2 separate regions of the Homo sapiens genome follow, and region 1 is linked to region 2. A link means that fine-mapping ties the variant in region 2 to the expression of a gene that starts in the linked region. Tissue or cell type: B cells. Region 2 holds a variant in brackets; the other region holds the start of a gene. All regions are shown on one strand. Distances are from middle to middle.

Region 1 (4,186 bases), 24 kb after region 2:
TAAATTCCTTGGCTGGGCTCCACATTAAATTTACATAAGGCAGATTAACAAGAGAAAAACCATGTGTAACTAAGACCTATGCATGGGAATCCCACAAAATACAAGACTGGATGAAGGCTCAGATGAATAAAGCTCATATAACATCCTACAAGGGACAGGAAACATTCCTTCAGAAAGGAATAGGGCTTGGGTCAGGTGTGGTGGTTCACGCCTGTAATCCCAGCACTTTGGGAGCCTGAGGCGGGTGGATCATGAGGTCAGGAGTTCAAGACCAGCCTGGTGAACATGGCGAAACCCCACCTCTACTAAAAATACAAAAATTAGCCAGGCACGGTGGTGTGCACCTATAGTCCCAGCTACTCAGGAGGCTGAGGCAGGAGAATTGCTTGAACCCAGGAGGCTGAGGCTGTGGTGAGCCAAGATCACGCCACTGCACTCCAGCCTGGGCAACAGAACAAGATTCCTCAAAATAAACAAAACAAAGAAACAAAACAACAAAAAACAAACAAAAAAACATGAAAATCAGCTGGGTGTCGTGGCGTGTGCCTGTAATCCCAGCTACTTGGGAGGCTGAGGTAGGAGAATTGCTTGAACCCAGGATGCAGAGATTGCAGTGAGCCGAGATGGCACCACTGCATTCCAGCCTGGACAACAGAGCAAGACTGTCTCAAAAAAAAGAAAAGAAAAAAGAAAAAGAAAGAAAAGAAAAGAAAAAAAGGAATAGAGGCTTGGGATCCTGGGGAGGTGGTACACAAGTTAAGGGAGAGTGAGGGGAGAGAGGGTAAGGTGAATGAAGCTTGTCTTCTTATGCGGATAAAATTTCTCAGGTAAGAAAAGTTAGCTCTGAGCAGCCCTCCGCCTGATACTAATACTTTACCAATGGAGATTTTCCTTTTCTTTTCTGTTTTTGAGACAGGGTCTCACTTTGTTTCCCAGGCTGGAGTGCAGTGGTGCCATCATGGATCACTGCAGCCTCCATTTCCCTGGCTCAAGCCATCCTCCCACCTCAGCCTCCCGAGTAGCTGGGACTACAAGGTGTGCACCACCACGACTGGCTAATTTTTAATTTTTTTGTAGAGACGGGGGTTTCCCTATGTTGCCCAGGCTGGCTTGAATTCCTGGGCTCAAGTGATCCTCCCGCCTCGGCCTCCCAAATTGCTGGGATTGCAGGAGTGAGCCACAGTGCCAGGCCTGGAGATTTTCTTTATAGATAGAAATCATTTTACAAAAGGACAGCTTTTCAGATCTACTCCTGTGCCTGCAGTTTCTAAGAATAATCCCTTCAAAATATGGCGAAGAAGTATATTTTGGGGTGGCACACGCTGGTCTCCCATAGTCACATTTTGGGTGTGTGTCCTGAGCCCCAACACTGGTCACCTCGCAATGGCGCTTGGGGTCCCTGGGTGCCTAGAGCTGCAGGTTACCCCCTCTTCTTCTCCTGCTCTCAGCCTTTCTCCCGCTCCTGCTGAAATTCTTTCCTGCGTGAAGGCGGAGCGCTTAAAGGCGCCTAGGACCTTTATTTCGTTGTTTTCCTTTGCATAAAAAGAAAACTTGTTTTGTAGAAGGGCAAGCAAGGTGCAGCTTCCAGAGGCACCTGGGATGATGCCCCTCTAGCGGTAGGCGAACTGGGGAGTGTGGGCGGCGGGGGAAGGCGAGGCCCTGGAGGACCTGTTGTTTTTCCTGTTGCAAGTGAAAAGGAAACAAAGTGGGAAGTGGAGTGTGCGGGTTGGCGGCAGGCGGGGCGCCCCGGCGCGCCCCGCCTCCCTCCCTCGAGGCTCACTCGCGCCCAGCGCAGTCGCTCCGAGCGGCCGCGAGCAGAGCCGCCCAGCCCTGCCAGCTGCGCCGGGACGGTAAGCGATCGCCGCTGGCTGCGTCAGGGGAGGTGGGAAGAGGACCGCGGCCAGGGGCTTTGGGAGCTGCGGCTGCGCTCGGGGGCGCGGGGCTGGCTGGCGGGCGTCTCTCCGGCACACACAGCCCGTGCGCCCTGGCCCTGGGCGCCTCCCCGAGTCTAGCGAGCCGGGTCCTGGGAGCCCCGGGGGCCGGGCTGCTGGGACCTGGGCGGGGGCTGCCCTAGAGGCCCGGGGCCGTCCCCCGTGGGCCCGCCGAGAGGGGCGTGCGCAGCTCCCCGGCGCCTGCACTGCGCGCCTTGCCCGCCTGGCCCGGCAGCGGGGTTTCAGCTGCGCTCACAGCGGCGGTGCGGCCTCCGGTGCGCCGGCTGAGGCGCGAGGATACTGGAAGCGCTCAGCGCGTGCGCCCGCTCCGAGCGCTGACTAGAGGACCAGGGGCCTCCTCTGTACGGCAGCGGGGTCCACAGAGAGCGCGCTGGTGATGTCGCCCGAGTGCCCTGGCGCGGAGAGAGGGCTGCGCACAGTTCGCCGGCGCCCGGGTCCTGTGCGCCCTTCCCAGCCTGGGCAAGTGGGGAGCGGGGCTGCAGAGGGGCCGGGGTGGAAGTTTTCGGGGCTTCCTCCCGGCTCGTGGACCCGCGCCCCGCCTCCCAGTCCCGGGCCTCCCGCGTTGCTCGCCGCGTTTGCTGCAGCGGCGCAGGCGAGATCAGCTCCGGATCTGCGGCCGAGCCGGGGTTACGCCGGCAAAACCGCCCCCAGCTTTGCATTTCCGGACTTTTTAAAAAAATACTCTTACCCGTAATTCAGCCTGAATGAGGCTTTTTAAAAAAATCGAGTTTCCTGTTTTTATTTAGGCTTCCTCATTTGCACCTCCTCCTTTGAGGTAGAGAAGAGGGGAACTGGGACGACCTTTCGTGGGCACCAGGATGGGGGCGTTGCAGGGCGGGGAGACGGGGGTCCAGAGAACCGGGGAAGGGCCGCTGGGAGGTCCCGAAAAGTGCGCTGTGGGTGGGGCGAGGGTGAAGCAGGTAGGGGCGAGATTTCCGGGGTCGCGGGTGGGGGGCGCCCTGGAGCGGCCAAGGTGCAGGGTCCTCGCGTGGCACCCTTGGGATCTGCCCAGTTTGCGGATGGAGCGCGGGGCTGATCGGGCAGGTCTCACTTGTGCAGGTGTTCCCTGGAAGGTGGGACCTGCAGATCTTGAACCCCACCAGACTCCATCAAGGGGGCTTCTTCCCGCCGATTCCTGAGAAGTCCTACCTCTGAGATGCTGGGCACAGCCGCACGTGGATGTGGGCGGGTGTGCCGTGGGTTGGAGTGGGAAGGGGCAATTATTCCTCTCTCAGGGCTCTCGGAGGGGAAGGTTTACTGCTCCCTAGGGACTTTGAAACCAAGGGCTAACCCCCTGCTCTCTTCCAGGAGAGTGGGATACCGCCCGGGTGCCTGACGGTGCCTTGGTGTTCTTGACAATTGAATGGTACCATCGGGACATTACTCCCCAAAGAACTGGTCGTTCTTACCTAGGTGATTTCAGCTGGACAACTGTAGGAGCTGAGTGGTGTTGTCTTCATTTTACAGTTAAGGAAACGAAGGCTCAGAAAAGTTAAATAACTCACCAACCCACACAGTTTACAAGTAGTTTCTCCAGGATCCCAGCTCTTTCCGACGCCAGCGCGTTTAATCATCTGGGGGTGCCGTTGCTTGCGGGGGAAGGAGAATGTCCTAGTAATTCTCTTGGGGGGGATTTGGAGGGGACGACTGTTCAGAGAGGCACCCTCTAAGATACCCTTGAGACTCCTCTGTAACACCCGCTGCTGCTGTTCACACCCCCTCCCCAATTTGATTGATGTGTTGAGTGGGGCGGAAGGTTCTTTTGGTTGATGAGGCTGCGACCAAACGCAAGGAGATATAAATAGAGCTTTCTCTTTGGCTCTCTCTAGAGCAGAAATGCCAACCCCTTAGCATTTCCATGGCCTGCTGGAGTTTCATTTCTTGATATTAGGATTCCAGCCATCTTGGCTGGTGAGAGGCCTGCTGGCGGCTTCCTGGGCTTGGTCCTCTTTTGGTGCTTTCACAGAATGATGGAAGACACTGGAGTGGGCTGGAGGAGTGCTCTTAAAACCCAGTTGTGGCTGAGAGCGGTAGCTCATACCTGTCATCCCAGTGCTTTGGGAGGCCCAGACGGGAGGATCACTTGAAGCCAGGAGTTCAAGGTTGCAGTAAGCTATTACAGTGCCACTGCGCTCCAGCCTGGGTGACAGAGCAAGAGCCCATCTCTGAGAAACATAATACAACAACCCAGTTGCCTGCTCCAGAGACAACTAAGCTAGCCTCCTTCTGAGCCC
Region 2 (4,450 bases):
ACACCTGCATGAGGCTGCGGGCAAGAGAGAGAAGTGAACCCTGTTGGGGATTTCTGCTTTGACCACAGAGGAGAGAGGGGATAAGCTTTCGCTGAAGCAGAAAGGAAGAGTGAGCCAGGGGCAGATCCGGGTGGCCAGGGAGTCGGGTTGGGGCAGATTCCGTTTGCAGGGGCCTGCAAGTGCCTGGGTGGGGACGCCCCCAAGGCTGCTGGAGAGGGGGTCCGGGGCACAGGGTCGCAGAGCTGGGCAGGGAGGAAGGGAGGGTGAGCTCCAGGCTGAGCTGCCAGTACCAAGGCTGCGGCAAGCAGCTCTAGAACAATCTGCCACTTGCAATGCAGGAATTAAGAAAGGAGGCCAGGCGCGGTGGCTCACGCCTGTAATCTCAGCACTTTGGGAGGACGAGGCGTGGGCGGATCACCTGAGGTCAGGAGTTCAAGACCAGCCTGGCCAACATGGTGAAACCCCGTCTCTGCTAAAAATACAATTAGCTGGGTGTGGTGGCGCACGCCTGTAATCCCAGCTACTCAGGAGGCTGAGGCAGGAGGATCTCTTGAACCCAGGAGGTGGACGTTGCAGTGAGCCGAGATCGCAGCATTGCACTCCAGCCTGGGCGACGGAGAGAGACTCCGTCTCAAAAAAAAAAAAAAAAAGAAATGGGAGGTTTGGAGGGACACAAAACACAGTTTCAACAAAATGAGCTTTGCTGACTCAGTACCTGCCCCAGGACCCCAGCAGCGCCAGGGTTTACGCTCATTTCTCCATCCCTGGAGGAAGCGGGCAGGAGAGAAAGTGAATTCCGCTTTCCCAGTCCCGAGAGTGCGGCGGAAACCACGCGGCGCCGCCGGGCGGGCAGCAGGGGGAGCCGCTGAGCCAGGGGCTGAGGGTTGCAGGCGGCTGTGGCCTTGGCCAGGCATCACCACCAGGTGGCGCCGCGCGCTTCCCTGGCGCCCAACCCGGAGGCCGCGAGGTCGGGGAGCGGATGCCCGGGGGAGACGCCGGCTGGGCGACCTAAGGCTCCGGGCACCCGGGCTCCGTGGCGGCCTCTTTGCCTCCTGCAGGGGTGGCGGCAGCACAGAGGTGTGCACCTCCACAGCTGGCTTCACACCCGCGGAGATGGAAACCCGTGCACGAGGCTGAGAGCACGAGCATCCAACAGGCTGGGGTTTGAATCCCTGCGCAGCTGCCTGCACGAAGGCGTGGGCCTCGCCTCTCTCCACCTCAGACTTCGCGCCCGTCAGTGGGAGCATGACGCTGATCTCACAGGGCGGCTGTAAGGATTAAATTAGGTGACAGTGGTGATGATGATGATGATAACATGTGTACTGAGTTCTCATCCAGGTCTGGCATGGTTCTGGGCACTTTACAGATATTAACTTATGATTCTAGTTCCCTGTGATGTTGGGGTGGCTGAGGACCAGGGGCTGAGTCTCCTGCACAAAGGGAAGGGCGGCCAGGCCTCCCTTATCGCGGCCACCTTCCCTGCTGGCCCCGGGTGCTGTTGGTGCTGAGGGATGACTGCTGCCCAAAGGCAGTAGAGAGAGGAGGGGCCTTCGATGCTAAAGGCCAGGGGGCCTCTTGTTTCTAGTTCCGCAGCCCCGCAGCCCACGGCTACAGGGAACAGAGGCCGCGGGTGGCAGAGCCCCACTGTTGATCTGAGAACAATGGAGGAACCATGGAGGCAGATGGCACCTCCCGCAGGAGCCAGGGGGTTGAGGCTGCAGTGAGCTGAGATCGCGTCACTGCGATCCAGCCTGGGCGACAGAGCGAGACGCCTGTAGTCCCAGCACTTTGGGAGGCTGAGGCCAGTGGATCACCTGAGGTCACCAGTTTGAGACCAGCCTGGCCAACATGGTGAAACCCTGTCTCTACGAAAATACAAAAATTAGCTGGGCGTGGTGGCGCATTCCTGTAACCCCAGCTACTCGGGAGGTTGAGGCAGGAAAATCGCTTGAATCTGGGAGGCGGAGGTTGCAGTGAGCCAAGATTGTGCCACTGCGCTCCAGCCTGGGTGACAGAGTGAGACTCCATCTCAAAAAGAAAGAAAGAAAAATACTCTTAGCGCAGAAACATCCAGTCTCACAAAGCCCAAAGATGCCATTCTAGAATATACTAGAAGGATAGCTCAAACACTCACATTTTATGGGGGTTCACTCTGTGTCAGGCACGATTATAAGCATTTTTAC[A/G]TATATGAATTATTTATTTCCAACAGCAATTCTAAAAGTTGAGCACCGGCCTCCGCTGTGGTCTAAGCAACGCCAGAGCCTTCTGGGAAAGGCGCCCCTGCCGTGGAGGGAGGATGGGCCAGTGGTGGGTGAGTGGAGGCCACAGCTCAGCTCTGAGGTTTCAGCCTCAGTGACCGGGCAGACTGCCTTCTTTGCCTTCCTCACACGGAGGTGGCCCAGAGTTGGTGGCCCTGGTGAGATTGGTTGGAGGTGTGTTGAGTTTGAGGGCTCTGTGGAATGTTGGGGGGATTTCCAGAGGCAGCTGGAGGGGAAGAGCTGGTGGCCAGGGTGGAGGAGTGGGTGGTGAAGGAGGAGTGGGTGGTGAAGGACAGACGAGCTGCGGTCAAGACTAGGGAGACACTGGGCAGTAAGGGTGATCCCGAGGACTCAGATCCCCCAGGACCCTCGGAAGGAAAAGGTTGGGCGGTGGGAACTCCATGGGAAGGTCCCCAGAAGCCCCCGTTTGCCGTCTGTGGTCTGCCCTGGGGCAGGCAGGGCGAGGGGGCTTCATGACCCAAGTGAGGGGCGGGCCTGGGTGGGGAGTATTTTCAGCGGGTTCTCTCCCCACTGTCACCCCAGTGAGGCCACCTGAGGTCACCTCTTCCCCTGGGGGTCTCGGGCCACTGACGCCTCTAAGGACTGGGGCTGCTGTGAGTTGCGGCCCCGGGAGGAAAGGGTGAGTCTGAACTCACTTGAAGCTCTGAGTCCTGGGGCTTCAAGGCCACACCTACCTGAGTTTGTGTTGGGGGTTGGTGCCCTCCCTCTGCGGTTGTCACTGGGGTGCCTTCCCCCCAGGCTCCTTCTCCTCTTCTCCGAGAAAGAGGCCGGGGCACCTGTCCTCCCAGCTCACACATTCCAGGAACCCCCAGGGGAGGACGGTCCTCAGCAGCTGACCCTCTCCCCTTTCTTACCACCAGCCGAGAATGAGGATGTGCTGAGAAGCCAGAAACAGCACTCCCTGCCCCCCCACCCCCGCCCCCACCCACCACGCTCAGAGGCCTAGAACAAAAACATACCACAAATAGAAATCAAAGCCTGAGAAAGAATCGAGGAGCCACGACCCTGCCGTGGGAAAGGCTGTGTGACCTTGGCCAGGTCACTTCACTTCTCTGAGCGCACTTGCCTGTCTGTAAAATGGGGTCATGGTCTCAACCTTGGGGAGCTGCTGGGAGAAGGTGAGCTAAGATGTCAGAGGCAGGGTGCAGGTGTGAAGTTCGGTCTAAAACAAAGCCCCTCGCCACAGGGTACTCGCCGGACTCCCAGCTCGCCCTAAGGCTCCCCCACCCCTGCAGTCGGGCCGGGACCGCCCCTGAGCACTTCCCCGTAAGGCTGCGGTGCACGGGCTGGGGAGCACTTCTGCACCCTCGCTCTCCACTTCCTGTTTTTCTCCCCAACGAATTTTGCGCCATTACTCTTTCATGGGGTGAGGGGGGAGTGGGGGCGGAGGCGGAGGCCTGCCTGGGAAGGAAGCCCGGGGGTCAGAGGCGCCCAGGACACCACGAGGTTGGGAGAGGAGTGTGCTTTGCACTCTGCACTCTCCAGCTCAGAGTAGCTGAGGATGCTAGGGAGACTGGGGGCTGGCCCACGGGGGGAGCAGAGGAGTCCTCAGTGCGGTCCTCACTCTGAAAACAGCATTTTTCCCTAGGCTTGAGAATGCCTCCGGGATTGGACTGATCCAGGCTGGACCCACGTCTGTCTGGTGATACCAGGGGCAGAGGGACCACTCTGACAGGTGAGTCTAGCCTCCCTACCCCCCGGAGGCCGTCAGGCCTTGGATCATGGACTGCAGGGTCACTCGGTGTCAGGCCCCTCCTTGAAGGGTGTGAAGGGGCTGTTCCTGCACTGGCTAGGATGTGGACACTTGTCCTTTCTCTTCCTCGGCTACAGCCCCCTGGCCCCTGGGCAAAGCATCACCTTGTCCCTTCATGACCACATCACTCATGTATTCCTTCATTCAGCATTTCTACAGACTCACTGGTGATGCCCTCTGGGTGCCAGACACAGGGGAGCAGCCCAGGAGCCTGTCCAGATCCATGTAGAGTCCCTGCTCCCAGGAGCAGCTGAGCGAATAGGCAATCATGGTTGAGTAGACCAAGAGCTGGGAGGGGATGATATAGCCAGGAGTATGATGAAGGGCCCCTTCGGGCAAGGGGGCCAAGGCAGGTAACATCTGTGCTGGGCCCGAATTCTACTGAGTAGTTAGCAAAGAAAGTGAGTGTGTGTGTGTG

What was found. PIP is the estimated chance that this variant, and not a neighbour inherited with it, causes the effect.
Region 1: it holds the start of PIK3CD, and the variant in region 2 is fine-mapped to the expression of PIK3CD in B cells (Schmiedel 2018, PIP 0.94).

Annotation. Positions count from the first base shown.
Region 1 is chr1:9,649,953-9,654,138 of GRCh38, forward strand. PIK3CD (phosphatidylinositol-4,5-bisphosphate 3-kinase catalytic subunit delta) reads left to right here and starts at 1,779. Exons shown (of 24, transcript NM_005026.5): 1 at 1,779-1,850. PIK3CD-AS1 (PIK3CD antisense RNA 1) reads right to left here. Exons shown (of 2, transcript NR_027045.1): 2 at 2,658-4,091. RefSeq lists a silencer at 1,692-2,581 and enhancers at 2,762-2,831, 3,972-4,021.
Region 2 is chr1:9,626,271-9,630,720 of GRCh38, forward strand. LOC105376712 (a long non-coding RNA gene) reads right to left here and starts at 3,157. Exons shown (of 2, transcript XR_946951.2): 1 at 2,954-3,157; 2 at 2,177-2,413. It also overlaps a transcript of PIK3CD not described here. RefSeq lists enhancers at 1-40, 1,228-1,692, 4,256-4,305, 4,336-4,395 and silencers at 781-1,120, 3,646-3,755. The variant A/G (reference allele first, on the strand shown) is at 2,184.